Linked DNA regions of Homo sapiens. The protein of the gene in region 1 purifies or fractionates together with the protein of each later gene. This does not show direct contact. Each region holds a gene or a part of one and is shown in the gene's direction. Other genes may lie near its edges.

The links.
Region 2: the proteins of COPB1 (region 1) and NAA15 fractionate together in Homo sapiens (co-fractionation; one large-scale study listed by BioGRID). This does not show direct contact.
Region 3: the proteins of COPB1 (region 1) and PRCC fractionate together in Homo sapiens (co-fractionation; one large-scale study listed by BioGRID). This does not show direct contact.
Region 4: the proteins of COPB1 (region 1) and POLR1B fractionate together in Homo sapiens (co-fractionation; one large-scale study listed by BioGRID). This does not show direct contact.
Region 5: the proteins of COPB1 (region 1) and SDF4 fractionate together in Homo sapiens (co-fractionation; one large-scale study listed by BioGRID). This does not show direct contact.
Region 6: the proteins of COPB1 (region 1) and IPO9 fractionate together in Homo sapiens (co-fractionation; one large-scale study listed by BioGRID). This does not show direct contact.
Region 7: the proteins of COPB1 (region 1) and CC2D1B fractionate together in Homo sapiens (co-fractionation; one large-scale study listed by BioGRID). This does not show direct contact.

What each region holds. Positions count from the first base shown.
Region 1 is NC_000011.10:14,471,888-14,476,232, reverse strand, and holds part of COPB1 (coatomer subunit beta), read left to right. Parts: intron 1-287; coding exon 288-448; intron 449-1,617; coding exon 1,618-1,738; intron 1,739-4,345. UniProt on the Homo sapiens protein: The coatomer is a cytosolic protein complex that binds to dilysine motifs and reversibly associates with Golgi non-clathrin-coated vesicles, which further mediate biosynthetic protein transport from the ER, via the Golgi up to the trans Golgi network.
Region 2 is NC_000004.12:139,342,719-139,347,063, forward strand, and holds part of NAA15 (N-alpha-acetyltransferase 15, NatA auxiliary subunit), read left to right. Parts: intron 1-107; coding exon 108-242; intron 243-1,467; coding exon 1,468-1,621; intron 1,622-4,345. UniProt on the Homo sapiens protein: Auxillary subunit of N-terminal acetyltransferase complexes which display alpha (N-terminal) acetyltransferase (NAT) activity. The NAT activity may be important for vascular, hematopoietic and neuronal growth and development.
Region 3 is NC_000001.11:156,770,535-156,774,034, forward strand, and holds part of PRCC (proline-rich protein PRCC), read left to right. Parts: intron 1-3,500. UniProt on the Homo sapiens protein: May regulate cell cycle progression through interaction with MAD2L2.
Region 4 is NC_000002.12:112,551,620-112,555,964, forward strand, and holds part of POLR1B (DNA-directed RNA polymerase I subunit RPA2), read left to right. Parts: intron 1-155; coding exon 156-379; intron 380-1,025; coding exon 1,026-1,197; intron 1,198-1,919; exon of another isoform or gene 1,920-2,071; intron 2,072-2,904; exon of another isoform or gene 2,905-2,960; intron 2,961-4,345. UniProt on the Homo sapiens protein: Catalytic core component of RNA polymerase I (Pol I), a DNA-dependent RNA polymerase which synthesizes ribosomal RNA precursors using the four ribonucleoside triphosphates as substrates.
Region 5 is NC_000001.11:1,225,502-1,229,846, reverse strand, and holds part of SDF4 (45 kDa calcium-binding protein isoform 2 precursor), read left to right. Parts: intron 1-900; 5' UTR 901-1,053; coding exon of another isoform or gene 1,054-1,074; coding exon 1,075-1,379; intron 1,380-4,345. UniProt on the Homo sapiens protein: May regulate calcium-dependent activities in the endoplasmic reticulum lumen or post-ER compartment. Isoform 5 may be involved in the exocytosis of zymogens by pancreatic acini.
Region 6 is NC_000001.11:201,866,314-201,870,658, forward strand, and holds part of IPO9 (importin-9), read left to right. Parts: intron 1-419; coding exon 420-646; intron 647-2,334; coding exon 2,335-2,483; intron 2,484-3,276; coding exon 3,277-3,405; intron 3,406-4,269; coding exon 4,270-4,345. UniProt on the Homo sapiens protein: Nuclear transport receptor that mediates nuclear import of proteins, such as histones, proteasome and actin. Serves as receptor for nuclear localization signals (NLS) in cargo substrates.
Region 7 is NC_000001.11:52,358,861-52,363,205, reverse strand, and holds part of CC2D1B (coiled-coil and C2 domain-containing protein 1B), read left to right. Parts: intron 1-459; coding exon 460-604; intron 605-1,589; coding exon 1,590-1,693; intron 1,694-2,073; coding exon 2,074-2,232; intron 2,233-2,656; coding exon 2,657-2,782; intron 2,783-2,972; coding exon 2,973-3,132; intron 3,133-3,322; coding exon 3,323-3,501; intron 3,502-3,671; coding exon 3,672-3,747; intron 3,748-3,848; coding exon 3,849-3,956; intron 3,957-4,048; coding exon 4,049-4,179; intron 4,180-4,345. UniProt on the Homo sapiens protein: Transcription factor that binds specifically to the DRE (dual repressor element) and represses HTR1A gene transcription in neuronal cells.

The sequences.
Region 1 (4,345 bases):
AGGTAAAATGTGTAGAAAGAATTAAGATTTCCACTTAGCAGATTAAGAAACTGAGGTCCAAAGTAGTAAGTGGCAGAGTGAGAATTCAAACCCTGGAATATCCATCTCTGAAGCCCCTATTCTACCTACTACATTATCCTGGGAAGGAAATAAATTGAAAGCAGAGTTCCCAGTTCCAAAAATCCCATTAGGGTAATGCCTTTTTTAGAGAAACAATCAAATATTTAAAGATAATTTTGCTTGCTGTTGATACTATTACTAAAATGATGTTTCCAATTGACTTTTAGATCCCAATTGTAGAGTCAGAAATAAAGAAAGAAGCTGGTGAATTAAAACCTGAAGAAGAAATAACTGTAGGGCCAGTTCAGAAATTGGTTACTGAAATGGGTACCTATGCAACTCAGAGTGCCCTTAGCAGTTCTAGACCCACCAAGAAAGAGGAAGACAGGTAATTTATGGCACATATACCCTGCCAGCTGTACTACTTTTATTATTACTCTTGTATGTAAGACAGTCAAATGATTTCTTTCCTCTTGCTTTTGCAACCAAAATGAAAATCTTTGCCATTTAAGGTACTTGAGAAGCGGAGGATGTTTAAGTTCTTCCCCCTAGGAATTGTATTGATGGTTTTAATTCTCTGTCCCTTCCAGTGTTTTTATGGAAATAACTGTTCTGTTTAAACTCAAATTATTTTTACTCAGAAAATGCTAAGTGGGGGTAACTGAAGATATTTGAGTTTTGTTGTTTATTAGCATCTGAAAACATTTTGAAGATTTTTCAATTTCTAAATGATGGAATAAAATTGTGCATTTTTCTATTAAGTAAATTTTAATGGTGAAGATGGTGAAATCTTTGCCTAAAATTTTACTGAATACCCACTAAGTGCTAGGCATTGTGCTAAGTAGTTTGTCTCATATAGTCTTGACAATAAGCCTTTGAGATAGAATATATTATCTCCATTTTATGGAAGAAGAATTTGAGGCTTACCCAGTAAATAAACAGGTAAGCTGGAATTCGGAGGTACTTCATTAGCTGCAATTACGTATGCCCCTAATTAAATATTGTATCTTTCCATATTCTGATGGCTTTTGTGTCATTCAAAGATAAGTTTTCTTTTTTTTTTTTTTTTTTTTTTTTTTGACACAGAGTCTTGCTCTGTCGGCCACGCTAGAGTGCAGTGGCGCGATCATGGCTCACTGCAACCTGTCTCCTGGGCTCAAGCAGTTCTCCTGCCTCAATCTCCTGAGTAGCTGGGATTACAGGTTTGTGCCACCATGCCCAGCTAATTTTTGTATTTTTAGTAGAGACGGGGTTTCACCATGTTGGCCAGGCTGTCCTCGAACTCCTGACCTCAGGTAATCCGCCCGCCTTGGCCTCCCAAAGTGCTGGGATTACAGGTGTGAGCCACTGCACCTGGCCAAAGATAAGTTTTAAAGTCATGTATTATTTTTCTTTTTCCTTCTTTCTTCTGGGAGCTAAGGAGTTAGTTAGCTAAGGTATCCTTATCACTGAAGGATGGTAATAAGAGTGTTTAATAGGCCTATATCATTCATTTATACAGAAGCTGCATGCTGCTTAGCAAGTTGGTGGGTTTGATTTTCCTTGGTTGCTTTGCAGACCTCCCTTGAGAGGATTCCTTCTGGATGGAGATTTCTTTGTTGCTGCCTCCCTTGCCACAACTCTGACCAAGATTGCATTGCGCTATGTAGCTTTGGTTCAGGAGAAGAAAAAGCAAAATGTAAGTTCATTTATTTTACATTTAACCAACAATTAAACATTGAGTGCCTACTATATGCATTGAACAGTGAGGGACTCAAAAATTAATGCTAAGTTTCTGTCATGAAAGAGTTTATGATTTAATAGCAGAAGTGGACACAGTAATATATTACTCTAAAATTGATAAAGTATCTTCCTCTTCTGTTTGGGCTTTAAAAAAATGAAAATTGACAAAGTAATACAATAACAATGTCATGTGATTATTCCAGTGGAAGAGAAAGGATTTATGAAGTCACCTCAGTTTGCTGGGATTAGTTCAGGACCAGTGAAGGAAATGTCCTTCTCTCCAGCATCTGCATCCATTCGGTCATTGTCTGTTTTATCCCAGAATGTCTCTTAAGTTATTCTCATCTGTAGTTCATGCCTGCTTTGTAGCTTCTGACCGTTCTAACCAAACACCCATTTACAATGGTATGCAGTTGGTCCTCCATATTCACAGCTTCTGCACCTGCAGATTCAACCAACTATGGATTGAAAATATCTTTTTTAAAAAATGATAAACAGTAAAAAATAATAGAAAGTTGAAAACAATGCAGTGTAACAATTATTTACATAGCATTTACAGGCATACTTCATTTTATTGTACTTTGCACATATTGCTTTTTTTTTTTTTTTTAAACAAATGAAGGTTTGTGGGAACCCTGAGTTGAGCAAGTCTGTTAGCATCATTTTTCCAAATAAGCATATGCTCACTTCATATCTCTGTGTTACATTTTGGTAATTCTCACAATATTTCAAACTTTTTCATTATTATTACATCTGTTATGGTGATCTGTTATCAGTGATCTTTAATGTTACTATCATAGTTGTTTTGGGATGCCAGGAACCATTCCCATATAAAATAGTAAACGTAATCAATAATTGTTGTGTGTGTTCCGGCTGTTACCCCGTCTCTTTCCTCCTTGGGCCTCCCTATTCTATTCCCTGAGATACCACAATATTGAAATTAGGCCGGTTAATAATCCTACAGTGGCTTCTAAGTGAAGGGAAGAGTCACATGTCTTTCACTTTAAATCAAAAGTGAGAAATAATTAAACTTAGTAAGGAATGCATGTCAAAAGCTGAGCTAAGCCAAAAGCTAGGCTGCTTTTGCCAAGTAGGTAGCCAAGTTATGCATGCAAAGGAAATGCTCTTAAAGGAAATTAAAAGTGCTACTCCAGTAAACACATGAATGATAAGAAAGTGAAACATTTGGCAGGCGTGGTGACTCACACCAGCACTTTGGGAGGCCCGAGACAGGCGGATCACGAGGTCAGGAGTTCGAGACCAGCCTGGCCAACATGGTGAAACCCTGTCTCTACTAAAAATACAAAAATTAGCCAGGTGTGGTGGCAGGCGCCTGTACTCCCAGCTACTTGGGAGGCTGAGGCAGGAGAATTGTTTGAACATGGGAGGCAGAGGTTGCAGTGAGCTGACATCACACCACTGCACTCCAGCCTGGGAGACAGAACAAGACTCCGTCTCGAGGAAAAAAAAGAAGAAGAAAGAAAGCGAAATAGCTTTATTGCTGATAGAAAGTTTGAGTGGTCTGGATAGAAGATAAAACCAGCCACAAGATTCCCTTAAGCCAAAAGCCTAATCCAGACTAAGACCTTAACTCTCTTCAATTCCATGAAGGCTGAGAGAGGTTAGGAAGCTTCAGAAGAAGAGTTTGAAGCTAGCAGAGGTTGATTCATGAGGTTTAAGGAAATAAGCCCGTCTTCATAATGTAAAAGTTTGACATGAAGTAGCAAGTCCTAATGGAGAAGCTGTGGCAAGTTATCTGGAAGATCTAGCCAAGATCATTGGTGAAGGTGACCACACTAAACAACAGATTTTCAGTGTAGACTAAACAACCTTATATTGGAAGAAGATGCCATCTAGGACTTTGGTAGCTAGAGAGAAGTCGGTGCCTGGCTTCAAAGCTTCAAAGGATAGGCTGACTCTTTTGGTAAGGGCTAATACAACCAGTAACTTAAGTTGAAGCCATTGCTCATTTCCCATTTTGAAAATCCTAGGGCTCTTAAGAATTGTGCTTAATCAACTCTGTCTGTGCTCTGTCAGTGGAACAACAAAGCCTGGATGTCAGCACATCCTCTTTACGGGATGGCTTACTAAGTATTTTAAGCTCACCATTGAGACCTACTGCTCAGAAATAAAAGACTCCTTTTAAAATATTACTGTTCATTGACAATTTAGCTGGTCACCCAAGAGCTCTGATGGAGATGTAGAAAGAAATGAATGTTTTCATGCCTGCTAAGACAACATCCATTATGCTGCCACTGATCAAGTAGTTTCAACTCTTATTATTTAAGAAACAGAATCCATAGAACATTTGTGGTAGTAGCGCAGAGTTGGTTACAATGTCCTACCACAGCAATTTCTGACATTCAAATTGGGCCTGTAGCAATGGGACTCCTTTTGATTCCTTCAGCTTTCGTATTATGTTGGTTATCTATACAGCAGGTTTCTAAATTGAAACACTTTCACTCACATCACTCATATTTCCTTCGTTTTTGGAGACTAACAGCTTGATCTAAAAAAAAATTTTTTTTTAGACGGAGTCTCACTCTTCTTGCCCAGGCCGGAG
Region 2 (4,345 bases), on another chromosome or scaffold:
ATTACAGGCGTGAGCCACTGCGCCTGGCCTAATATGGAGATCTTTTAAAGGAGCACTTGCTGTTACTAAAAGCCTAAGAAAAAGTGTTTATTTTTTTCCTTTTAAAGGAAACGAGGTATCAGTTACTTCAGCTTCGACCTGCGCAGAGAGCATCATGGATTGGTTATGCTATTGCTTACCATTTATTAGAAGATTATGAAATGGCAGCAAAGATTTTAGAAGAATTTAGGAAAACACAACAGGTAATAACTAGAAGCCATTTTACTAAGTCTGATCCTAAGTATAACTAAAAAAATAATGTGCATAGTCTGGCTTACTTTTAATTTTGAAATAGTTTCAAACTTATAGAAAAGTTGCAGGAATAGCACAAAGAACTCTACATAGGGGTTCATTCATACTAAACTAATTGTTAATATTTGGTGCATTTACTTTAAAATTTGTGTATCTATTTATCTATTTTAATTTTCTTCCTTAAATGTTTGAGAGTAATTGCAAGACATCATGCTCCTTTACCCCTAAATGCTTTAGTGTGTATTTTCTAAAAATAACTGTATAGTTTTCAGTTCTCTAGATAGTATTATAGGGATAGATTATAAAAATTAGGAAATTTAACACTGATAGACTGTTATCTAATTAATCCCCAGCCCATATTCAGAATTTACTAATTGTCCTAGTTATAGCCTTTCTAGCAATTTGATTTCATTGCAGGATCCAATTAAGAATCATACCTTACATTTAGTTATCATTTCTCTTCAGCCTCTTTTAATCTGAAACAGTTTTGAAAACTTCCTTTGTATTTTATGACATAGACATTTCTGAAGAAGGCTGTGCTTTTGTAGGATGTCCCTCAATTTGGATTTTTCTGATGGTTCCTCATTCTTAGATAGAGTTTTATAATTTTGGCAGGAAACCATATAAATGATATTGGGTCCTTCTGCGTTCATTACATCAAGAGGCACATGCCATCAGTTCGTTCCATTTGATTACATGGTGAAAGTTGTATTTGCAGTTGTAAACGTATTTTTCTCTCTTTGTGTTTAATATGCAGTTTGAGACTGAATAGCCTATTGCTCATCAAACTTTCACCATCTAGTTTTAGCATTCATTGATTATGATTCTTGCCTGAATCAGTATTACTATGATAGTCGCAAAATGGTGATTCTCTTAACTCTAGTCATTCCTTGTAGGTTTATTATTTGGCATTCTACTCCTGAGTAAGAGCTTTCCCTTCTTCCCCATATTTATTGTGTGTAAGGACTTATGGATTATTATTTTATTCAACCTGTTATATCCTAATATTGTCATTATTTACTCAGTTGCTCTGTAGATACTTAAGAATTTTTTAAAAATTAGTTTTATCAACCGGATGTTATCCTTTGACTTCTTACATGTTTTTGAGTATTGTGAACAATTTTCTGATATGAAAATAAAATTCTTACTGTCAGTATTCCTTATATCCATATACAGACATCCCCTGACAAGGTGGATTATGAATATAGTGAACTACTCTTATATCAGAATCAAGTTCTTCGGGAAGCAGGTCTCTATAGAGAAGCTTTGGAACATCTTTGTACCTATGAAAAGCAGATTTGTGATAAACTTGCTGTAGAAGAAACCAAAGGTATTTTTAAAAGAATTGTCATTTATTCTAATATTGAAATATGACAGAGCAAGGCTGAAAAATCTAGTTGCTGCTGACAGTTTCATATAATTCAGCTTTTTGATGATAGGAAATCTATTTCTTACTCGTGTACTTTTAATAGTTTATGATGTGGGAAAATGTACATTTAAACAATATTGTAGATAGAGGAGAAAGTTGATTGTGAACAATGAAAAGTAGTTGAATGAAATGACTCATAACATTCTTTAAATAAAGTATCTTTGTATTAAAAATATTATGGAATTTGATCAAAACACAAGAGACAATTAGTTTTATAAGACAGAGGATGACATTTCTTAGAAACAGTTTATTAATAAACTATAGTGTATGTAGTATGTGCCAGATTTATTGCTAATAATATATATTGATGAATCAGTCTTTACTAAAATACATATAGGATATTTCTGAGAGTCTTTATGGTTAATCTGAATGTCTTCGATGACACAGAAAGAATATGAGTTCTGGAAGAAAGGGAGACCAGAGATTTGGGTTCATAATATGTAGATTGTGATAGGAGGGGTAGATCCCACTCAGCAGAGGGCTGAGAAAAATGAGTCTTAACAGTTTTAGAAGTTGAGGGCGTGATTATAGAAAATAAAAGAAGAATAACAAGTAATGAAAGGACAAGTGATTTTTTAAAAAATTACCTTCTGAAATGCTGCTTTGTCCTTGCTAGTCTAGGGAACTGAAGTTTGCTGGTTTCACATTCCCTTGGCTCACCTTGAGGTTGAACACAAAAAGTATAATATACATCCATGTGCATAATAGGTATAGCCATTGTTTGCCAGATAAACTTTTGTCGGAGGATAATGGTACTGATAAGAAAAACTGGAATTCTAAGACTTCTGGAGGGAGCTCTCTTGTGAACTGCAGATCCAAGACAACCTTCTTTCATTTGAAGTAGTCATTCTTTAGTAGTCTGTTAATCACAAAGGAAGGAAATTTCTGACTTGCTGGAAAGATGGCAAGTCTGGAAAAAACTTGTCTCATTGGCCACTAAATAGCTCTGTGAACAGAGTCAAGGCTTGGGCCTCAAGTTTCTTTATGGAAATAAATGACAAATTATTTCATTTGATCCCTTTGATAACTTCATTAATGAGGAAGAATGGCAGATAGGTAAAGTTAGATAAAGGACTCAGAGCTGACCAGTGGATTTTTAGCAATTTAGAAGTCATTGGTGACCTTAACAAAAGCACTTTCTGAGCTTCTGGAAGAAGGATGGTAAAAGCCCAAACATCAAGTCTATTTAAAAGAGACTGAGGCCGGGCGCGGTGGCTCAACCCTGTAATCCCAGCACTTTGGGAGGCCGAGGCAGGTGGATCACGAGGTCAGGAGATCGAGACCATCCTGGCTAATCTGGTGAAACCTCGTCTCTACTAAAAATACAGAAAAATTAGCCAGGCGTGGTGGCAGGCGCCTGTAGTCCCAGCTACTCGGGAGGCTGAGGCAGGAGAACGGCGTGAACCTGGGAGGCGGAGCTTGCAGTGAGCTGAGATTGTGCCACTGCACTCCAGGCTGGGCAACAGAGCAAGACTCCGTATCAAAAAAAAAAGGGAGTGGGAGTAGAGGAACTGAAGATAAGAAGCACACATGACTCAGTTGAGGAGTTTTGCTGTAAATGAAACAAATGGGGTGCCGGTAGGTGAAATGGGATGCAGGCTCAAAAAGTTTTTGTTTGTTTGTTTGTTTTTCATAGCGTGTATTTGTGCTGACTGGGGAGTGATCCAATAGAGATAGAATATTTGATACAGTAGAGAGAATGTCATGTGGTAGATTGATGTCATGTGAAGGATTAATTTAGGTAAGAACATGAATAGTTCACATCAACAAGTAGTGGTGGTGTGTAAGTGGCGGGCAAGTAAATGTGTAGATGTAATGCATATTTTGGAGTTTCCTCTAATTGCTTCCGTTTTCTACATGAAATAAGAAATAAGGCTATCAGCTCATTCCACAAAATATGTATTGAATACCTACTTTGAGTTAGGTAATGGGACAGGGTGTATAAAGAGAATAGAAGGGAAGTGAGGGTAGAATCAATCTTTGGAAATTCTAGCAATCTTTAGAAATTCAAGGCAGTGTTGCTGGTAGGGATAGTTGGTGGGAGAAGATAAGATGGTCAAGATCACTCAGGAACTTCTTAGAGTGGATCAATGGGCACAGTTAGGCAAAAAAAAAATTTTTTTTTTTTTGAGATGGAGTTTCACTCTTGTTTCTCAGGCTGGAGTGCAGTGGCGCGATCTTGGCTCGCCGCAACCTCCACCTCCCGGGTTCAAGCGATTCTGCCTCAGCCTCCCGAGTAGTGGGATTATAGGCATGTGCCACCATGCCTGGCTAATTTTGTATTTTCAGTAGACATAGGCTTTCTCCATATTGGTCAGGCTGGTCTTGATCTTCTGACCCCCAAAGTGCTGGGATTATAGGCGTGAGCCACCGCACCCAGCCTAGGCAAAATTTTTTATTGTTTATTCTTATACCACCAGTTCCTTCTGCTCAGAAAAGGTAGAAGATAGAGGGAAGGAAACGAGGATGGGTATAGTGTAGAGGGGAGTAAAGGTGCAGGTTATTTTTATTTTTTATTTTAGAGGTGAGGTCTTGCTGTGTTGCCTAGTCTGGACTTGAACAAGGCTCAAATGATCCTCCCCCCAAACCCCACCCCCAGCCTCCCACTACAGGTGCGAACCATCG
Region 3 (3,500 bases), on another chromosome or scaffold:
CAGCTAATTTTGTATTTTTGGTAGAGACTGGGGTTTCTCCATGTTGGTCAGGCAGGTCTTCAACTCCTGACCTCAGGTGATCTGACCACCTTGGCCTCCCAAAGTGCCGGGATTACAGGTGTGAGCCACCACGCCAGCCAACCATTGTCTTTAAAAGAGCTGTGCCCCCTCCAGATGTAAGCCCCTCCAGTTCTGAGCTCTATGTCTTACACTTAGGCTCTTAGTACGCATTTGAAAGAATGAATTAGGTTTCCTTAAGTAAATAATTTCCCTTTAGAGTTTGGTGCTGAAGTAGAAGTAATTAGAAGTAATTAACTCTCAACCATTTCGTTCAATTGATATTGAGCTCTTTCTTTGTACCTGGAGCTAAGAATGTACAGTAGTGAACATGATAGCCCCAGCCCGAAAGGAGCTTATGATCTACTGGAGAAAACACAGAAGGAAATAGATTTTAGGACAAGGCAGAGAAGGACCGTGATAAGCTGGTGCCATTGGAGTATACCTAGTGGGCATTAGTCCAGTCTTGGGAGGTTGGGGAGCCCTCTGGGGGGAGATGTCTAAGCAGAGATAAGGCTGAAGAAAGGGTAGTATGGGAGCAGCACAGCAGAGGAAACAATGTATAAAAGCTTGGAGGACAGAGAGGGACAGTGCTTTCAGGGAACCTCAGGTGAGTAAAGCACAGTGGCTGGAGCATTTGAGAGGGTGGGGAGTGCTGAGAGAATGGGGCTAGAGAGAGAGAGGCTCAGGCCAGATAATGGGCCTTGGATGCCATGCTAGGGTCTTTCTACCTCATTTTGGGGTTGTGAAGACCCCTTAAAGGCAAGAATTCTCTGATCACAGAGTGGTGAGAACCTTGGAGGGAGCAAGACTGGCAGAATGTGAGAGGCTGGTGGCCTGGATGATGAACTAGGGGATGGAGAGAACTGGAGCATCGAGGTATATTTAGGAGGGGGAAGTGATAAGACTGGAGGATTGATTAGATGTTACACTAAGGAGAGGATTCAAGATTGACCCCCACTGCATTTGCCTCAGGCAGCTGGGGGGTGGTGTTGCCATTTATTGAGGGAATACGGGAGGCAGAGCAGATTGGGGGTTAGTTAGATTTCATTTGTTGCAAGTGTTAGAAGCCAACTCAAGCTAGTTTAAATGTTTTTTTTTTTTCTTCTTTTTTAAATAAATAGAGACGTTGTCTCGCTACATTGCCCAGGCTGGTCTTGAACTCTTGAGCTCAAGCAGCCCTCCTGCCTTGGCCTCTCAAAGTACTGGGATTACAGATGTGAGCCACCACGCCTAGCCTTAAATGGTAATGCATCATAAATATACTGTGGTACCTCAGAAGGGACCTGCATCAGGAACCTGAGATCTGTTGGGGATCTCTACACAGCTGTTCTTTGCACATCTGATTCATTTTTTAAAAAATTTGTTTTATTTTTAAATTTTAATATATTTATTTATTTATTTGTTTTGAGACCAGATTATGGGACTGGTCAATTTTTGTATTTTTAGTAGAGATGGGGTTTCACCATGTTGCCAAGGCTGGTCTCAAACTCCTGGGCTCAACTGATCTGCCTGCCTCAGCCTCCCAAAGTGCTGGGATTACAGGCGTGAGCCACTGCTTCTGGCCTTGATTCATTATTTCTCTGCGGATTGGCTTCTTAACCTTTGTTGTAGGTGAAGGATGGCCACCCACACCTTGGTTTTGATTTCTTTCCTTTTAGAGATCAGTCCAGATTGAACTATGATGGTAGTCTCAATTCTGGTTTTCCTGGAGTGAGAATTTGGTTGATTTGATTTGGGTCATATTATCCAATCATCTGCAGTCAGCGTAGTACCAAATTCTCCCTCCAGGCGTATTCCAAAATTAAATTCAGTCAGCTTTTGATTTTTGTGGGGAATTAGGAATGATCCATAGAATGGATAATCGTCCTTTCTTTTTCCCTTCTTGCTGTGACCCAAGCTACACTGGTTGATTTCATAGGCTCAGGGGAGGCAGACTTCTCCTAGCATATGAGAAACCAAAATCAGAAGAATAAGTCTGCTGGAAGAGTTTTCTATCATTTATAAAGTGTATTCCAAAGCACACAGAAATTTCAGGGTTATCTGGATTAGTATTTACCACCACTTTCAGATTGTTTACCAAGATAGTAGAAAATTTGAAGCTCTGAGACAGATTTCACTAATTTTTGTCACTTCTAGTAACCAAATAAGAATTGCCTGCAGTGGATTTAGCTAAGTTTTAGCCCTAGCTAAAGGGAAGGGAGAGTGTGCTTATCTGTGTGGGGCACCTGCTTAATGTCTGAACTGTGCTGGGCACTTACTTTAGTTTATAAAGAAGAAAACAGGAGTTTAGAGAACAGAAGTGATTTGCCTGAAAACACAGTTTGTGAGTAGCTGCAATTGTATTTGAACCTGGATGAGATTTGTTGTGTTTATCGGGGTGTCTATGGAAAACATGGAAGAGCCTGGGGCAGCCAGAAAGCAGAAAGCAATACAAATGAGGAGTGCAAAAATGGGAGTGAAAACGGTATCCTAGCAGCAGGTACTTGAGACTTAAGAGTGAAAAAGGGTTGATGAATGTAGCAAATGGGGATAACAGTAGTAATGATTAGGGTTTGGAGCCCCGGGGTGTGGTGCTTAGGGGGCGTCTGTTCTTGGGTTCTTATTTCCTCCTTGGCTTTTAGTCCTGGAAGCTAGTGATTGCTTTTTGGAGAGGGAGTGTCTCAGAGCCAGAGCCTGGGAAGATAAGAGAGAGGCCGCCGTGGGGAATGAGGCTCTGATAGATTAGCAGATCCCACTGGACCTAGCTTAATGGAAAATGTCTGTTTCCGTTCTTGCTCAGCAGTCTCGGGGTATGTGTGTCTTGTCACTCTTGGCAGCTGGAACAGAGAGGACAGTGGTGGCCATTGAGGCTCAGGTTCTCGTGAGGCCAAGAAGAAATACAATACTTTCTTATTAACAGACTCAACAGTTTGTGCCTCAAAACCAATGTGTGCCTATTGTGGCCCGGGACACTCTCAGCCCTGGATGCTCCGGTGTTTCTAGCATTGTCCTTCTTTCTTGATCTAATGGCACAGACCCACTCAGATGGCCATTTGCTGGTCTTTAGCACTCTCTAGAAGTTGACTCCACAACCTCCATTTAATATACTCTTGAGGAAAACAGTTTGGCAGTTCCTCAAAAGGTTAAACAAACAGAATGATGATCCACCAATTTCACTTCTAGGTGAAAAGAATCAAAAGTGGAGATTCAAACAGATACTTGTACACCAGTGTTCATAGTAGCAATACTCCCAGTAGCCAAAGGTGGCAACAACCCAAGTGTTCATCCACAAATGAATAGGTAAAATGTGGTATGTGCACACGTTAGGATATTATTCAACCTGAAAAAGGAATGAAATTCCGATACGTGCTACAACATGGATAGACCTTGAAGACATTATGCTAAGTAAAGTAAGCCAGTCACAAAAGGACAAATATTTTATAGTTGCGCTTATATGAGGT
Region 4 (4,345 bases), on another chromosome or scaffold:
AGAATGCTTTATTTTAGAGAGTTTACTTTGATTCAGCAATAGCAGAGTGCTAATTTTCCTTGGGTATTAAAAAAATGAGAGAAGATAATTATTAGTGAATAGATAAAGTATTTTAGTTATTAGTGAGCAATTAAACCTTTTATTTTCTATTCTAGGCACTTGTCAGCTTTTCTGATTATCAGATCTTTCAGGAGCTCATCAAAGGAAAAGAGGATGATTCTTTCCTTAGGAACTCTGTTTCTCAGATGTTAAGGATTGTAATGGAAGAGGGTTGTTCGACACAAAAACAGGTCCTTAACTACCTAGGTGAATGCTTCAGAGTAAAACTCAATGTTCCTGACTGGTACCCAAATGAGCAAGCTGCGGAGTTCCTGTTTAAGTATGTGTGCTTTGTCTAAACTGTTTTTGGAGGGGCGGAGGGCTGTCAGTGGTTCTTTGTATTGGTTGCAGTTTGGGCGGGCGAGTCATTTGGGAATGAGAATGAATCTTGGGGTAGAATCCTGGTCCTTGCTAGCCGGGGGCTACCTTTGTTTTTGCGGCCCTCCTCACTTGTATTTTTTTAGTAGTCGTGTTTTATTTTATAGTACTTTTTAACTTTTATTTTGAAATAATTTCAGACTTCCAGAATAATGTCCAAATAGTACATTGGATTCTAATTGTGAACATTTCATTCATTTACATTTACTTTTTTACTTTCTGTGTACACAGATGTACATTTTTCTTTCTGTACAATCCCTGAAAGTTGCAGGGATTGTATCACTTTATTTCTCCAAAGCAAGGACTTTGTCTTATATAACCACTGTATAATTACTAAAGAAGCCAGCTCCATACTGGTGCTGTCCAGTGCATAGCCACCAGTCACATGATAAGCACTTCAAATGTGGCCAGTGTAGCTCAAAAACTGAATGCTTAATTTTATTTAATTAAAGTTAAGTAAGCATGAGTTGGGGATCTTGGTTAATAGAATATTAAGTAGTATTACCAACTGAATTGTTTTAAGCTTTTTTTTTTTTCTGTTTTCACAGCCAGTGCATCTGTATCCACTTGAAATCCAATACTGAAAAGTTTTATATGCTTTGTCTCATGACGCGAAAGCTCTTTGCTTTAGCCAAAGGAGAGTGCATGGAGGACAATCCTGATAGTTTGGTGAACCAGGAAGTCCTCACACCGGGTCAGCTCTTCCTTATGTTCCTGAAGGTAAATGCATGCTATGTCCACCCTTGGCCAGTGGTACCACTTGTGGAATGGCGTGACTTTGTCCAGCAGCACTGTTTTCTGCATGTTTATAGTTTCTAGTTTTGGCATTTTGTGTGGTCTCTTTTTTGTTTGTTCATTTAGCAGTAAGGGGATCAGAAATCCTGGCTTACACCAGGTTTGGAAATTTGCTTAATATTTTTATGTAAAGATCACATCAAATCTTGGTCACAGTGTTAATGATAAAAAGCAAATGGCCTGTATTTATACATATGGTTGATCCTCATTATTTGTAGATTCTGTATTTGTGAATTCACTCACTGGCTAAAATTTATTTGTAACCCTAATGTCAGTGCTCAGTGCTTTCATGATTATTCACATACATGAGCAGAGCAGTGAAGAATTTGGGTCTCCTGAGGCAAATGTTACAGCTGAGGCGGGGCAGGGCGATGCTCTGCTTTCCGGTTTCAGCTCATACTATAAAGAGGGTCCTTTTTGAGGTGCATTTGGTGCTATGTTTTTCACATTGTCGTGCTTCTTATTGGTGACTTTTTTGTTTTTTTTTGAGACAGGGTCTCAGCCTCAACCTCCCAGGCTCAAGCAATCCTCCCACCTCAGCCTCCTGAGCAGCTGGGACTATAGACATTCACCACCACACCCGGCTAATTTTTAATTTTTTTTGTAGAAACAGGGTCCCACTATGTTGTACAGGCTGGTCTCAAACTCCTGGGCTCATGTGATCCTCCTGTTTCAGCCTCCCAAAGTGATAGGATTGGAGACATGAGCCACTGAGCCTGGCCAGTTTTTGCTGTTTATAATGGTCCCCAAGCATAGCACTGAAGCGCTGTCTAGTGTTCAGTGTTAATGAATTAACAAGGTATGTTAAATAAGGTGCCTTTCAACAAAAGCTGACATTAAACAAGATTGTATATTGATCCGTTGACCAGAATGTTATGACCAGAGACTTGCAGGAACCCAGCCCTGTATTTTTCCCCAGGAGTAGTGGTTTTATATGTGTTAATTCAGTGTTCATTAGAACATAGCTACTGTGAGTAGTGAAATTTGACTGTAGATGTATATAGAGAGAAAGTTGGCATGGCACAAAAATGATTTCATAAGAATATTGATTCAGTGGCATTTTATATTTTGCATCTTATCCTCAAAAAGATGTAATCTAAGAGTTAATATATTTTTAGTAGAGGTGGGGTTTCACCATTTCAGCCAGGCTGGTCTCGAACTCCTGACCTCAGGTGATCCACCTGCCTCAGCCTCCCAAAGTGCTGGGATTACAGGTGTGAGCCACTGTGCCTGGCTTCTAATTTATTTTATTTTATTTTGAGACAGAGTCTTGCTCTGTCTCCCAGGCTGGAGTGCAGTGCTACGATCTCAGCTCACTGCAACCTCCACCTCCCGGGTTCAAACAATTCTCCTGCCTCAGCCTCCCGGGTATCTAGGATTACAGGCGCGTGCCACCATGCCCGGCGAATTTTTTTATTTTTAGTAGAGACGGGATTTCACCATGTTGGCCAGGCTGGTCTCGAACTCCTGACCTCAAGTGAGCCACCCACCTTGGCCTCCCAAAGTGCTAGGATTACAGGCGTGAGCTACCACACCCGGCCTTCTAATTTCTTATCTAGGTAGTAATTCTTATTTACATTCTTCCCGAAAGGTAATAATCTTTGTTTCTGTTTGCTCTGTCCATAAAATTAGATTGAAAAATTTCAGCAGCCTACAATTTTCCTGACAAAAATTGAAAGCAGGCAGCGTAAGTTTTCTCTTATTAATTTAATGTTATTAAATTAACCTTTCAAGTAAAGGTTAATTTACATTTCCCATCTACTTAAAGTGAAGCATGGTGGGCTCATTGTATTCCACACTTATAAATGTGTCTTTATTCCACATCAATTCCTAATTAGGAAAAAAAAGAAAAGAAAAAGAAATGAGACCAGGAGTACAGTGGCTCATGCCTGTAATCCCAGCACTTTGGGAGGCTGAGGCAGAAGGGTAACTTGAGCCCAAGGAGTTTGAGACCAGCCTGGACAGCACAGAGAGATCGCTACAGAAATAATAAAAACTATTAGCAGTGGCTGGGTGTGGTGGCTCACGCCTATAATCCCAGCACTTTGAGATGCCAAGGTGGGTGGATCTTCTGATCTCAGGAGTTCAAGACTAGCCTGGGCAACATTGCAAAACCCTGTCTCTACAAAAAATATAAAAATTAGCTGGGCATGCTGGCATGCTGCAGCAATTCCAGCTACTCAGGAGGCTGAGGTAGGAGAGTTGCATGAGCCTGGGAGACGGAGGTTACAGTGAGTTGAGATCACGCCACTGCACTCCAGCCTGGGCGACAGAGCAAGACCCTGTCTCCAAAAAAAACCTGTTAGCTGGGCATGGTGGTACATGACTGTGGTCCCAGCCACTTGGGAGGCTGAGGTGGGATCCCTGAGCCCAGGAGGTCAAGGCTGCAATAAGGGGTGATTTTGCCACTGCACTCTAGCCTGGGCAAAAGAGCAAGACCTTATCTCAAAAAGAAAAAAGAAAAAAACACCTGGTGCGGTGGCTCACACCTGTAATCCCAGCACTTTGGGAGGCCGGGGTGGGAGGATCACTTGAGCCCAGGAGTTTGAGATCAATCTGGGCAAACAGCCCAGAGACAAAACTTCGTCTCTACAAATAATTTTAAAAAAATTTAGCCAGGCCTGGTGGGCCACACCTGTGGTCCCAGCTACTCAGCAGGCTGAGGTAAGAGGATTGCCTGAGCCCAGGCGGCGGAGGATGCAGTGTGCTGTGATCACGCCAGTGCACTCCAGCCTAAGTGACAGAGCAAGACCCTGTCTCAACAGAAAAAAGAAATGAGTCTTCTGTAGCAAGGCGTTACTAAGGTGACCTGTGTCAGCAACAAGAGAAACCAAGGGAAAATTGGGGCTTTTTCAGAGAATTCATTGCCGAGTATCTGATTTCCTTACCAGCTACGTTAAAGCTTTTAAACCTTTGAGTTTGGAGCATAAAAACAATCTTCAGAAGATACATAACCATGACATAAGATGAATTATAGACTGTTAAAAATTCACATTGTATTTACATTGAAATAAGCAATATAAAATTGAAAAATAGCAACCATATTTTCTGTATTATTGTAGATTAACCATAA
Region 5 (4,345 bases), on another chromosome or scaffold:
CTCTGCACTTAGGGTTGGCTGTCTTCGCAAAGCCTGGTCAGTCGGGGGGAGAGGGGGAGCCTCCTGTTTCTTAGTGAGAAGCTGAGGCCGGGGAGGCCACATGACTTAGCTAAGGTCATAGATCTCAAGAATGTTCAAGTCAGGGTCTGGAGAGTGACCCTAACCCCATGGGTCAGTGGCATGATGCCAGGAGGGACAGAGCCGGGCCCCACAGGAAAGCTGTGCTGCAGGTGTTGGGCGATGGGGACAGGTTAGCCCCTGGAGGTGCTGACAGCTCGAGAGAGAGATGGAAAGACGGAGAGACAGGGCTGAAAACTCAGTGTCTGTAAAAAAAAGACCGGGCACAGTGGCTCACGCCTGTAATCCCAGCACGTTGGGAGACTGAGGCAAGAGGATCGCTTGAAGCCAGGAGTTTGAGACCAGCCTGAGCAATACAGCGAGACCCGTCTCTACAAAGAGTAAAATAAAAATAAATTACTGGGCGTGGGGGTGCACGCCTGTGGTCGCAGCTGCTCCGGTGGCTGAGGCGAGAGCATCACCTGAGCCCAGAGCATCACCTGAGCCCAGGAGTTCGTGGTCACGGTGAGCTGTGGTCACCGCTGTACTCCAGCCTGGGTGACAGAGCAAGACCCTGTTTCTAAAAATAAAGAAAAAAACACCACGTGTGGTCCGGAGAAAACAAATGCCACGTGTGGTCCAGAGAAAACAAATGCCACGTGTGGCCCGGAGAAAACAATGCCACGTGTGGTCTGGAGAAGGCAGTGCCACGTGTGGTCTGGAGAAGGCGATGCCACATGTCTGGATCCTGTGAATCGAGGATATGTTTCATGTTGCAGGATAGACGTGCTTGGGGAAGTCTTTGCTGAGTCTTGCTAATGATGTGTCTGTGTCTCTCTGCAGACTGTGAGCTGCTTGTCCCCATCCTGCGGCCGTCCTGGGGACACAGAGCCCTCCGTGGTGCCCGGGGATTGGATTGGAGCCAGGACCTCACTTCCTCCTCTGCCCCTGCCCCTGCCCCTCCCAGCACCTGGCCCACACCCTGCAGCCCGCCCCATGGTCTGGCCCTGGGTGGCGATGGCGTCCAGGTGGGGTCCCCTCATTGGCCTGGCTCCGTGCTGCCTCTGGCTCCTGGGGGCAGTCCTTCTGATGGACGCGTCTGCACGGCCTGCCAACCACTCGTCCACTCGAGAGAGAGTAGCCAACAGGGAGGAGAATGAGATCCTGCCCCCAGACCACCTGAACGGGGTGAAGCTGGAGATGGACGGGCACCTCAATCGCGGCTTCCACCAGGAGGTCTTCCTAGGCAAGGACCTGGGTGGCTTTGATGAGGACGCGGAGCCGCGGCGGAGCCGGAGGAAGCTGATGGTCATCTTTTCCAAGTAGGTGCCGCCATGTGCCCAGACTGGGGGGCTGTCCGCGTGCGCTCGCCTGTGTGTTCCTATCCTGGCTTTGCGCGGTGGGGGGCGCCGGGCCCTGTGTCGGGACCTGCCGGGCTGGGAAGACGTGCCGGTGATGAGCGCCACTTCCAGCCTGCTGTGTTTGCGCGGAGGCCTGCGCTGGCAGCCCAGAGCCGCTCCTTGAATGCCCTGGGTCCGCCGGGGGCTCAGAGGGCCAGAGTGGGCCTGTGTGGCCGTCCCTAGGACAGCCTGGAGGAGCCCACGCGGCACTGCAGTGGTCAGCGTCCTCCATGCTGAGGGGCAGACGCCGGCCACGGGCAGCCTCCGCAGGCTGCAGCCCCAGTTGGACGAGGCCTGGCTGAGGAGTGAGGGGCTGCCACAGGTGGCTGGAGAGCTGGTACAGGGTGCTCTGGGCTCCTCCTGACACGCCCTCTACCCTGTGTGTTTGGGGTCCCTGTCACACACGGGCCGCGTATCACACGCAGGCTGGGGGTGTGTGGGGTTGGCTTGTTTTGCTGGCCTGGTCGGGAGCAGAGCTGTGCTGTCAGTGGCCCATCCTTGGCCGTCACTGCCCCCACCCTGCTGAGTCCCGAGACCCTCTTGCTGCCTCTGTGCCTAGTGCCGAGCTTTCTCCCCCGACCCCATCCCTGAGTCTCGAGAGCCTGTTGTGAGGGGTCCAAGATGGGTCAACCTGACCACTCACCCACAAGGAGCCAGGTCCTGCACGGGCGCCTTACTCCTTACGGCACGGCCGGGGTGCCCTGCGGTGTGGCCCTGGAACCTACTTGCACTCAGCGCTGGCCTCACCCCTGGAGGCAGAGCAGGGTCAGGGCGTGCCCGTGAGTCCCCCAGGCCAGCCAGGGTGCCGGGCAGGGAGCCGAGGTGCAGGTGAGAGAACACCCTGGGCCTCCTGGGACCTGCGAGACCTGGGCACAAGGAGGCAGCCCCCGCCGCAGGGCCTGGCCACGAGCTCACCTTCCCGCAGGGCCTGGCCACGAGCTCGCCTTCCCGCAGGGCCTGGCCACGAGCTCGCCTTCCCGCCGGGCCTGGCCACGAGCTCGCCTTCCCGCCGGGCCTGGCCACGAGCTCGCCTTCCCGCCGGGCCTGGCCACGAGCTCGCCTTCCCGCAGGGCCTGGCCACGAGCTCGCCTTCCCGCCGGGCCTGGTGCTCCAGGACCAGTGCAGAGGGGCAGGTGGCAAAGCTGGTGAGCAAGGGGATTGGGCAGGGCTGGGGTCCTGGGGTGCAGGAGCAGGTAGGAAAGGTGTGAGGACTGGTCTGGCTGTGCCACGGCCCTTGGGCTGAGGGCCAGGCGGGAGGGCCCTGAGGATCCAGGCTTTCGGGCGGAGCACAGGTGAGCTGGTGGGACGGAGGCACGGTGCCAGCTGGAGGACCTGGGCACCAGGTGTGGTGTCCCCTTGCACCTCTCCTCAGATGGTACGGTTCGGGGGTCCTTGCGTGGCCTGAGTTCACTTGGTGGTGAGCTGACCAACCCACGAAGAGGCTGCTGGTGCCCCTGGGGCCTGTCAGGTTCACCACCCCTGAGCTCACGAAGGCCTGGCTCGCGGCATCACAGGGGAAGGGTCCCCGTCCCTGCTCAGCCGGTGCTGGGGGTGGGCTGCACGCCTGGGCGAGGGGAGTTGAGGCTTCTGCTCGGTGCGTCTCCAGCTGGACCGGGGTTTCTTTTTGGTGCCTGTAACGAAACCCCAAGCTGTCTCGTTTGAGGAGGTGGGCATGGGGAGTGGGAAGTAACAGCAGGTCTCCGGGTCTCCCTGACTCCTGCGCCGAGCGGCGACAGCGGCCGCTGTGGGTGTTTAGACTTCCCTTCCCACACGCGGGTCCCTTCTCGCCCTTCTCCTGCGTAGGGCCCCGTCCCTCCAGGACCCACGTTCACTCAGCTGTCCTGTCTCCTCTGTCTCCTCTGGGCTGGAACGGTGTCTCAGACTCTCCCGTTTTTGTGAGGACGTAACAGTTCTGAGAAGGGCTGGGTAGGAGGTTTTAGGCTGTCCCTCAGTTTGGGCTTGTGGGATGTGTTTTCTCCTGACCGTACAGGGTTGAGGGTTTCTGGAAAGAGCCCCCAGAGGGGAGGTGCCATGTTTCCTCCTGACCGTACAGGGTTGAGGGTTTCTGGAAAGAGCATCCAGAGGGGAGGTGCCCTGTCCTAGGGGCTTTTGAGCTTCACTTCCTTCCCGCTTCCCTGCACCACGAGATGCTCCAGGCTTTCCTTCCCGCTTCCTGGCACGGTGAGATGCTCTGGGCTCGCCTCCGTGCCACCTGCCCCAGTGCAATAGCTGCCGCCTTTCCAGGAAGCCCTGTCTCCCGTGGCTGGAGCTGGAAGCCAGGGTCTGGGCACTGGGCGTCTTGCCCTTGTTCTCTCAGGAGCCAGAACTTGATAACATGCGTGTGTGCACCAGCCCAGTCACATCTGTGTTCTGCCAGCCCTGTTCACGTGTGTGTGCTGTGTACACGTGGGTACCGGCCTGTGCACTTGCGTGTGTGCGTGCCAGCTCCATGTACGTGCACCGCCCTGCAGCCGTGTCTTCAGGCACCTGAGTTTGGATGAGTGACTCCTTGCCGACATCTTGACTGGAATCCTGCGCCATGTGGTTTCTTTCCACCTTTTTGCTTTTTGCTCTGCCTCGTGTGTGTCTGTGTCTGTGGAGTGTGTAGAGCGTGTGGAGTGTGTGGCCCGTGTCTGTGGCATGTGGAGTGTGTGGCCCGTGTCTGTGGCGTGTGGAGCGTGTGGCCTGTGTCTGTGGCGCGTGTGGAGCGTGACCGGAGCATTCGAGGATGCACGTGTCCACGTGAGACCCACCAGGTGCCCCACCTGCCACATGGCCACCCGGGTGGCCCCGTCCCCAGCCGGTGTGTTTTGGGGACTGTGGAGCTGAGGGTGCCTCCCAGGCCCGTCCACCTCTGGGCTGCTGCGGCTGCTGAGGGAGGGGCGCGT
Region 6 (4,345 bases), on another chromosome or scaffold:
TGTATCATATTGGACATGATAAGCAACATTCAGTAAATATTTGTTGATTGAAAAGAGGCTAATACAGTAAAACTATAGAGGGAACTTTAAATCCTACAGCTAATAGGCTGATTTTGAAAGTGAAACATAAAATGTTTATATAAATTAAGCTTGTTTCAGGATGCAAAAAAAAAAAACCTCAAGAAAAAAAGCAGAAGTTTTTAAAGAAAATAGCAAAAGTCAAAGAAATAAATTACAGAACATAGAAATGGTGGTGTTGATGTTTATATAATACATCCAGAAAGAAGTAGAAACTTAAACCTAACTTTAGAATTAGCTTTATAAAGCTACACATACAAATGCTATAATATGTGAGATTGATTGGGAAAACCAGGAATTGAATTTTTTTTAATAATTCTTGCTTATCTATCTCTCTCTAGTTATTGTGACCAACTGAAAGTCTCAGAGAGTACCCACGTGCTCCAGCCCTTCCTCCCCAGCATCCTTGATGGCTTAATTCACCTAGCAGCCCAGTTCAGCTCAGAGGTCCTCAACCTGGTGATGGAGACCCTGTGCATCGTTTGTACAGTAGACCCCGAATTCACAGCAAGCATGGAAAGCAAAATCTGCCCCTTCACCATCGCCATTTTCCTAAAGTACAGTAATGGTATGCTGCCAGGGAGGATGTATTATGAGGGGCACCAAAGAAAAGGTGGTGGCTGGTGAATTTAAATGAAAGATTCCCTAGGTCTGGTCTTAGCTATGAAGCTATGGTTTTAACATCGTAAGCAAAGAATCTGGCTTTCAATTAGCAAAAAATAGAATTGTGCTGTAAATGTAGCAGCATTAAAAAATAGAGTACCTATTTCTGTAACACTTACTCTCTAGTAAGGACTTAGGGATAAAGATAATAAATAAAGGGCTAATAAGCAAGAGACATAATTCAGAACTTTGATGATAGAATAGGAAATTGGGCAAATGAAAAGCCTCCTAAAAGAAAAGGGCTAGGACTATAATTTAGAAAAGGAGATACTAAAGAAAGATATATGGAAAAGTTTATAAACAAAGGTATTCACTAGATATTTTTTACAGTAGTAAAAATTTGGAAATTATAAAAAGACATTAGTTAATTATATCCATAAAATGAAATACTGTGCAGCCATTAAAAATCAAGCTTAAAAGGAATATCTGAAACCATGGGAAAGAGCTTACATTATAATAAATGAAAAGATACTTTTCCCAAAAAATCCATAGAATATGATCCCAAGTTTTGATTTTTCTTTTAGAAAAGCATGTATGTATAGATAGGTATGTTTTAAAAAAAAATACATCAAAATGTTGAGTGTTTAGGTAGTGGAATTACAGGTGTTTTCATTATTACTTTTCTGCATTTTAAGTTTTTTTTTTCCTGTAGTGAATGTATTTATTAATACCTTATTACTAGTAAAATATTAAGGATTCTTTTTTTAAAGAGAGAGCTCCAATATTGAAGCTCAGAAAGATGTACAGGATAAGGATTATTTATATAATGTGATATACTGAACATGTTATTTGATAGCTTTTTCACTGAAAAATGTGTACTGAGGAGCTTTCCACATTGTGTTCTTGGATATATCTCATTCTTTTCAGCCATTACTAATGTTCCATAAAATGGGTATATCATAATTTACCCATTCTGTTAATGGACATCTAGGGTATTCCCAATTTTTTTCTATTACAAACAATGCTGCAGTGATCTTTTAAGGTATACTTTAATGCACATTGCCTATATTTTTCCATACTAAATAGAGGAGGATGTTTTGTTCTATAGATAAAGAAGATTGAGCTAAAGTTCCCTTTCTTCATAAGGCTCTGCTTTTTAGGAGTTTTGCCTTTTGCCCCAGAAGTAGCTTTGAGAGTTCTTCATGTCTACCGTGGCTACCCCATAGGAGATATGTATGATTTCTCTCATGCATCAAAGCCAGTGTTTTGGCAATTTTTGCAGCTTTCATGTCTTCTTAAAGTATCAGTTGGGCTTTTTTTTTTTTTTTAAGCATTTGGTTTTATAACGTAGGTTTCACAAGAATAAAGACTTTAAAGATTTTTCTCTAGAAAAAGCCACATTTTGTTTTATGAGTAGCTGTTAATGACTAGTCCCTACTTTAATGAAGCCATACAAAGTGTACCTCTTGCAGATTTAGGATCTCTCCTGTTCTTTCAGGTTATTCATGTGGCCCCACTAGGTCCCGGGTATGTGATAAGTAATCAATGCAGAAGTTGTTAACTTAGGTTAGGGCCAAACAACAGGCATCATTAAGCGAGAAGCAGATGCAGACCATCAGGCAGGGGGATTCCGTGTTGCCTTATCCACTTCAGATCCCGTCGTCGCCTCACTGGCTCAGGACATCTTCAAGGAGCTGTCCCAGATTGAAGCCTGTCAGGGCCCAATGCAAATGAGGCTGATTCCCACTCTGGTCAGCATAATGCAGGCCCCAGCAGACAAGATTCCTGCAGGGCTTTGTGCGGTAAGTGGCCGTGTGTGTGTGTGTGTGTGTGTGAGAGAGATCTACAAGTGCCACCCACAGATGCATCTAGCTGACAAGAACCTAATAGCGTTAGAGATTCATGGGGTGATTTTGCTGAGCTCTTTTGCCTGCAAGGACAGTGGGTGATTCTCTGAAGCTTTAAGAAAATGGCTTGGCTTGGCGCGGTGGCTCATGCCTATAATTGCAGCACTTTGGGAGGCCGAGGTGGGTGGATCACAAGGTCAGGAGTTCGAGACCAGCCTGGCCAATGTGGTGAAACCCTATCTCTACTAAAAATACAAAAATTAGCCGGGCATGGTGGCAGGCATCTGCAGTACCAGCTACTCAAGAGGCTGAGGCAGGAGAATCACTTGAACCCAGGAGGCAGAGGTTGCAGTGAGTGGAGATCGTGCCACTGCACTCCAGCCTGGGTGACAGAGCGAGACTGCCTCAAAAAGAAAGAAAGAAAGAAAATGGCTCTTCTTGTTCCAGAGGTACCCTCAGTGAATTGAACAGAGTGCCACCTTTACACAGTGCCACTAAGTATGTCACCTGGTTATCCAATCCACTACCATGTACTACTGCCCACCCCTATGGCTAATCAATTAGTAAGCTATTATGAGAAGGCTGAGAGTACTACCCATTTAATTATTCCTTTTATTTTGGAAACTTGCCTTTCATTAATAAGCTTTCTCTGGGTTGCTATGTAATACCCATCCAGTAAGGATCTTGGTTGTTGGGCAACCCCCACCCCAGAGGCAATTCTGACTTTTCTTTTTCTTCTCTCTTTCAGACAGCCATTGATATCCTGACAACAGTAGTACGAAATACAAAGCCTCCCCTTTCCCAGCTTCTCATCTGCCAAGCTTTCCCTGCTGTGGCACAGTGTACCCTTCACACAGATGACAATGCCACCATGCAGGTATCTGAGACATGGAGAGTAGAAGAGGGAAGATAGCTCCCCAGCCATGGGCTTATACTATGCTGAGAAATCTGACATGGTTTTATGCTTTTGAAATACGGAATTCTCAACTCCATATTTACTTAGCAGATTCAGGAAGGGTTCAGTCTGCAAAAGCCAAGCATTTCTGGTGCTTTGGAGCATGTTACAGTTTTTAAAAATATGGATACCAAGCACCCTGCCCATCTGTATTGGGTATTGCTACTGTGAAAGAGGTTACAGACATCTAGACTTGGGGCCATAAGAAAGTCTTTCTGCATATTTCTTCTAGTAATAAAGTCAGCAGAGTGATGGGCCTCTAGAGAGGGGAGACATGCCTGAATATTTTTTCTCTTTTTGTTTCTTGGGTGAATTGGTTACCTTTTCAGGTGTCTGCTACTGTGATTGATTAGAAAGGTTATAGGAACTTGCCAGTGAATATTGATCAGCTTGGAAATCCCTAGGCAACTAGTGGTTTGTGTAAGACCTATATAAAGACCTACAGTATCCCCAGTTATTCCAAGATTGTAAGCATATTTTTTTAGTACCAGAGGTAGACCTTTATGATTAAAATTCATTTTGCTTGGCCATTGTCCCTTGTGATTAAAAAAATATATATACACATTTGTGAGATAGCTGATTAGGTAAAGGGGGAATTATGTAATGCACGTCTATGTCTGTAACAGTAAATGTCTTAACTCCAGTGGTATGAGCCCACCACAAACATTATAGACTCACCGCTTTTATGAGGCATAGGCCTCTGGGAACATTTGTTTATACAGACTGAGGGCCTTCTGGCATCTGTCCCTCGATTACTAATCTTGCTTGCCACCCCTGTCTCCCCAGAATGGCGGAGAGTGCTTGCGGGCCTATGTGTCAGTGACCCTGGAACAAGTAGCCCAGTGGCATGATGAGCAGGGCC
Region 7 (4,345 bases), on another chromosome or scaffold:
AGCCAGGATGGTCTCCATCTCCTGACCTCGTGATCCACCCGCCTCGGCCTCCCAAAGTGCTGGGATTACAGGCGTGAGCCACCGCGCCTGGCCAAAAAATAGGACCTTCTTCTCAGAATTGTGAGAATTAACTGAGGTGGTTAAGATAATCACATAGAACGCTAAGAACAGTGCATGATGGCAGCTATTGCTGTTGGTTGTAATAATGGTAGTGTGTTTTAAATTCTGACTCACAAGACTGTCTCAGTTTCAGTGTGGTCTTACTGGGTTTTTTGTTGAGTCCCTAGGAAGGTAAGTGTCTCAAGGAGTAATGTTGCAGGCCTCAGTTTCTTTCTGCACATTGGGCCTCACAGACTGAAGGAGCCACTGATTGGGACTTGGAGAGCCCCAAGTCTGGCTCTGGAGCTGGACCCTACCCTGCTTGTTGTGTGGTTCCTAAGAGTCCTGCTCTGCTCTCAGATGGGGCTCTTTATGGAGTTTGGCCCTGAGGACATGCTGCTGGGCATGGATGAGGCTGAAGATGATGAGGACCTGGAGGCTGAGCTGCTGGCTCTCACAGGGGAAGCACAAACCACAGGCAAGAAGCCAGCACCCAAGGGGCAGGGTGAGTTTGGACACAGGGCTGGTCTTGGTGCTGGGACAAGATGGGCACAGGCTGGTGGTAGAGGGGTTCCCTTGCAGCTGGACGGAGCCAGCCAGATCCCCTGGTCCTTCCAATACCCATCTGCCGCACTCCCACCAAGAGGCGGCCTCGCCCTGCTTCCCCACCTTGTGTCATGGCCTGGGCTGGCCCCTCCCCATTGTGGACAAATGTGTTTCTCAGACTGACTCAGGTCCCCATCCTTAGCCCTAGCCACGGTATTGGTGTAGGGTAGGGGCCCAGTTAGCACAGACTGAACTGGGTACATAGGAAGTACATAGAAATTGTGTCCAGCGAGTTAAGTGGAATCTCCCTCCACAGCCCAGATGAGAACAGAGACTTCAGGCCTGGGAGGATCAGGAGGTCTAAATCGTCCTCTCTTTTCACCGGGAACCCTCAGAGAATCCCCCCACTCATCCCCCACCATCCTGTGTGTCCCTGAGTTGAGGATAATGGGAGGACCTAGGAAGGGGCTCACTGCTCCTGCCTTGGGGTGGCACAAGCCTAGGTTTGAATCCTAGCTCTGCCACTTAAGGATTGCAGTGATAGGAAAATTAATGTTGGAAGTTTCTCAGTTTATTCAATATATGAAAAGGGGATATTATCCATCTTGCAGATTTGTTTTGAAGCTCTGTTGGACTTTGAAAATCTTTACAGATGTGAAAGGTGTTGTTGGAGGTTGGAGAGAGTGGATGGCCATGTCTATGTCAGGCTACCGTAGGCAGAGGTGCAGAGAAAGGAGCAGCTTGTTGCTTGGTGGGGGGCCAAGGAAGGTTTCCCTGTTGAGGGTCTTTTGAACTGGGTCTTAAAGGAAGAGCAGTTTTCCAGGTGGGACTCTGCTGTGGGAGGGAAGAGGGATTTCTGCCTGGGTGGATCTACCAAGCCCCTCCTTTACTCATCCCTGAACTTATCTGAGTTGTGCTGACTTGTTGTGACCTTTTTCCCCCAGCCCCCCTGCCCATGGCCCACATCGAGAAGTTGGCGGCAGACTGTATGCGGGATGTGGAGGAGGAGGAGGAGGAGGAAGGGCTGGAGGAAGATGCAGAGCTGCTGGTGTGTCTGCCAGGCTGGTATCCCAGGGCTCTGAGGCAAGCTTGGGCCTGGTGGAGGAGAGGGCAGTGGAGAGGAGGCTGGGGGTGCCCCTGTATTCTCTGACTCTGAGTGAGTGCTTGCCCCTCCTGGCTGTACAGTGGGTGGCGTGTCTCTTTGACTTCTGGTCTAAGCTCTGCAGTTGGGGATTCTCAGATTTGGAGTAATTACTATTTTCAAGGCTATCCTCGGTCAGATTAAAGAAATGTTTTGGTGAAGGGGACTCAGGCACAGTGACTGACGTTAGGGAATATTGCTGAGAGAGAGGGTCCTTTACTCTCAGGTCCTGTTGTGGGTATGGTCTTGAGGCCCCCAAGCTCCTGGGCTGTGTTTTGTCTCCCTAGACGGAGCTGCAGGAGGTCTTAGGTGTGGACGAGGAGACTGAGCCCCTGGATGGTGATGAGGTAGCTGACCCAGGCGGCTCTGAGGAGGAGAACGGCCTAGAAGACACTGAACCTCCAGTGCAGACAGCCGTCCTGACAGCTTCAGCCCCAGCAGCTCAGGTGGGTTCTGGAGGAGGGCCCCTGTGCCTCTGATGCTCCTGTGCGCCCAGACGTAACACGTGTGTGGCCTGGCCTGCACAGCAAGGCTGCAGTCACCCTTTCCAGGACCCTCCCCCAGCAGCCGCCCCAAGCAGAAACTGAGCACAAGAAACTCCTCCGTGGCAGCCAGCCTCAAAGGCCTCTCTGTTCTCCTAGACTACCCCCCGGGAGCCATATCCTGGCTTCCACCAAGTGGGGCTCTGTATTTGCCTCTGCCATGGCCTCTGGCCTCTCCAGTGAGCCTTTGCTTCCTGCCTTAAGGCTTTTAGGCTCTTCTTTCTCCTGGAGTCCCAGAGCTCCATCTTCTAGGGCAGCTTCCGCAGAGGGAGAATGGTAGGCCTAGCAGGCCCTGGAGTGGCCAGGCCCTTAGCTGAATTGTTCATAGGCCGGAGCATCTCAGGGGCTACACGCTTTGCTGGAGGAACGGATTCACAACTACCGAGAGGCTGCGGCCAGTGCCAAGGAGGCAGGCGAAGCAGCCAAAGCCAGGCGCTGCGAGCGCGGCCTGAAGGTGAGTCGGGCTAGGCTGGGAGCAGGGCAGGGGAGGGGGCTGCATGAAAGGCGGCTGGTGGAGATCGCACCAGTGGAGGGGAGGTCACCCCACCAGACTTTGGGGGTTGGGGGGCCACCCCTGGCCTGTCTTGGAGCAGGGTCTGGGCTGAGATGGCTGGCTGGGTTTCTGGACCAGTTCTCTCCCTCAGACCTTGGAGTCGCAGCTAGCCTCTGTGAGGAGAGGCAGAAAGATCAATGAGGATGAGATCCCACCTCCAGTGGCCTTAGGAAAGCGGCCCCTGGCCCCCCAGGAACCAGCCAACAGGAGCCCTGAGACAGACCCTCCAGCTCCCCCTGCCTTGGAGTCAGGTATCTGCAGATGCCCAAATCCTGTTCTAGTTCCTGGGGTCATAGCCCACAGCGTGTGTCCCCAGCCTGCCACCACTGTTCATTACCATTGGTCACATCCTCCCCAGGACATCCTCAAGCCAGTGAAGTCCGTGGGCACCTTCTTCTGTGACCCTCATGTGCTCTCTGGGGACTGTTTGTTTCCTTATAGACAACCCCTCCCAACCTGAGACCAGCCTCCCTGGCATTTCTGCCCAGCCCGTTTCAGACTTAGACCCAGACCCGCGGGCCCTGCTGTCATCCCGACAGAGAGAGTACAAAGTGGCTGCCCTCAGTGCCAAGCGGGCTGGAGAGCTAGACCGTGCCCGAGAGCTCATGAGGATTGGGAAGGTATGGCATCTGGCTCAGGGCACCCACCCTCATTTTATAGATAGGGGAAACAGGCTCAGAAAGGGAGCTAGACTGAGATTGAGTGAGATTGGCCTAAGTGGGGGTTGTTTCAGCCCAGGCTCTTGGGGTCCCCTGTCTTTCACCCACACCTGCTTTTCCAACTTCTGCAGAGATTCGGTGCTGTCCTGGAGGCCCTGGAGAAGGGGCAGCCCGTGGATCTGAGTGCCATGCCCCCGGCACCTGAGGGTCAGTATGTATCTTCTCAGGCTGCGGTGGGGTTGGGGAGGAGTAGCAGGCCTGGGGCTGGCCAGGCCCTCCCACCTACACCTCTACTCTGGGTCCCCCAGATCTGAAGCCCCAGCAGGCTTCTCAGGCTCCCACAGCACCCTCAGTCATTCCCCCAGCCGTGGAGCGAGTGCAGCCAGTGATGGCCCCTGACGTCCCAGCAACCCCAGGTAGGGCAGGATGGTGGGACTGTGGCGTGGGGACCTGCAGGCATTGGAGGGCAGGCTGACCTGATGCCCACTTCTTCCTTCTTTCCTTCAAGTGGCCCCTACAGAGTCACAGACAGTGCTGGATGCCCTGCAGCAGAGGCTGAACAAGTACCGCGAGGCGGGCATCCAGGCCCGGAGTGGTGGGGACGAGCGCAAGGCTCGGATGCATGAGCGCATTGCCAAGGTGGGCCCGCGGCTATGCAGCCCCTGCCTGTGCTGGCCTCTTCCCTGGCTGGGTGCTCTGTCTCCCTGGTCCTCCGGCTAGTCCTTGTCTTTTCTGAACCATCATCTGTTTGTCTCTCTGGGGCTCTTGCTGCCTTAGGGATCTTTTTTTCTCCCAGGGCTGCTGT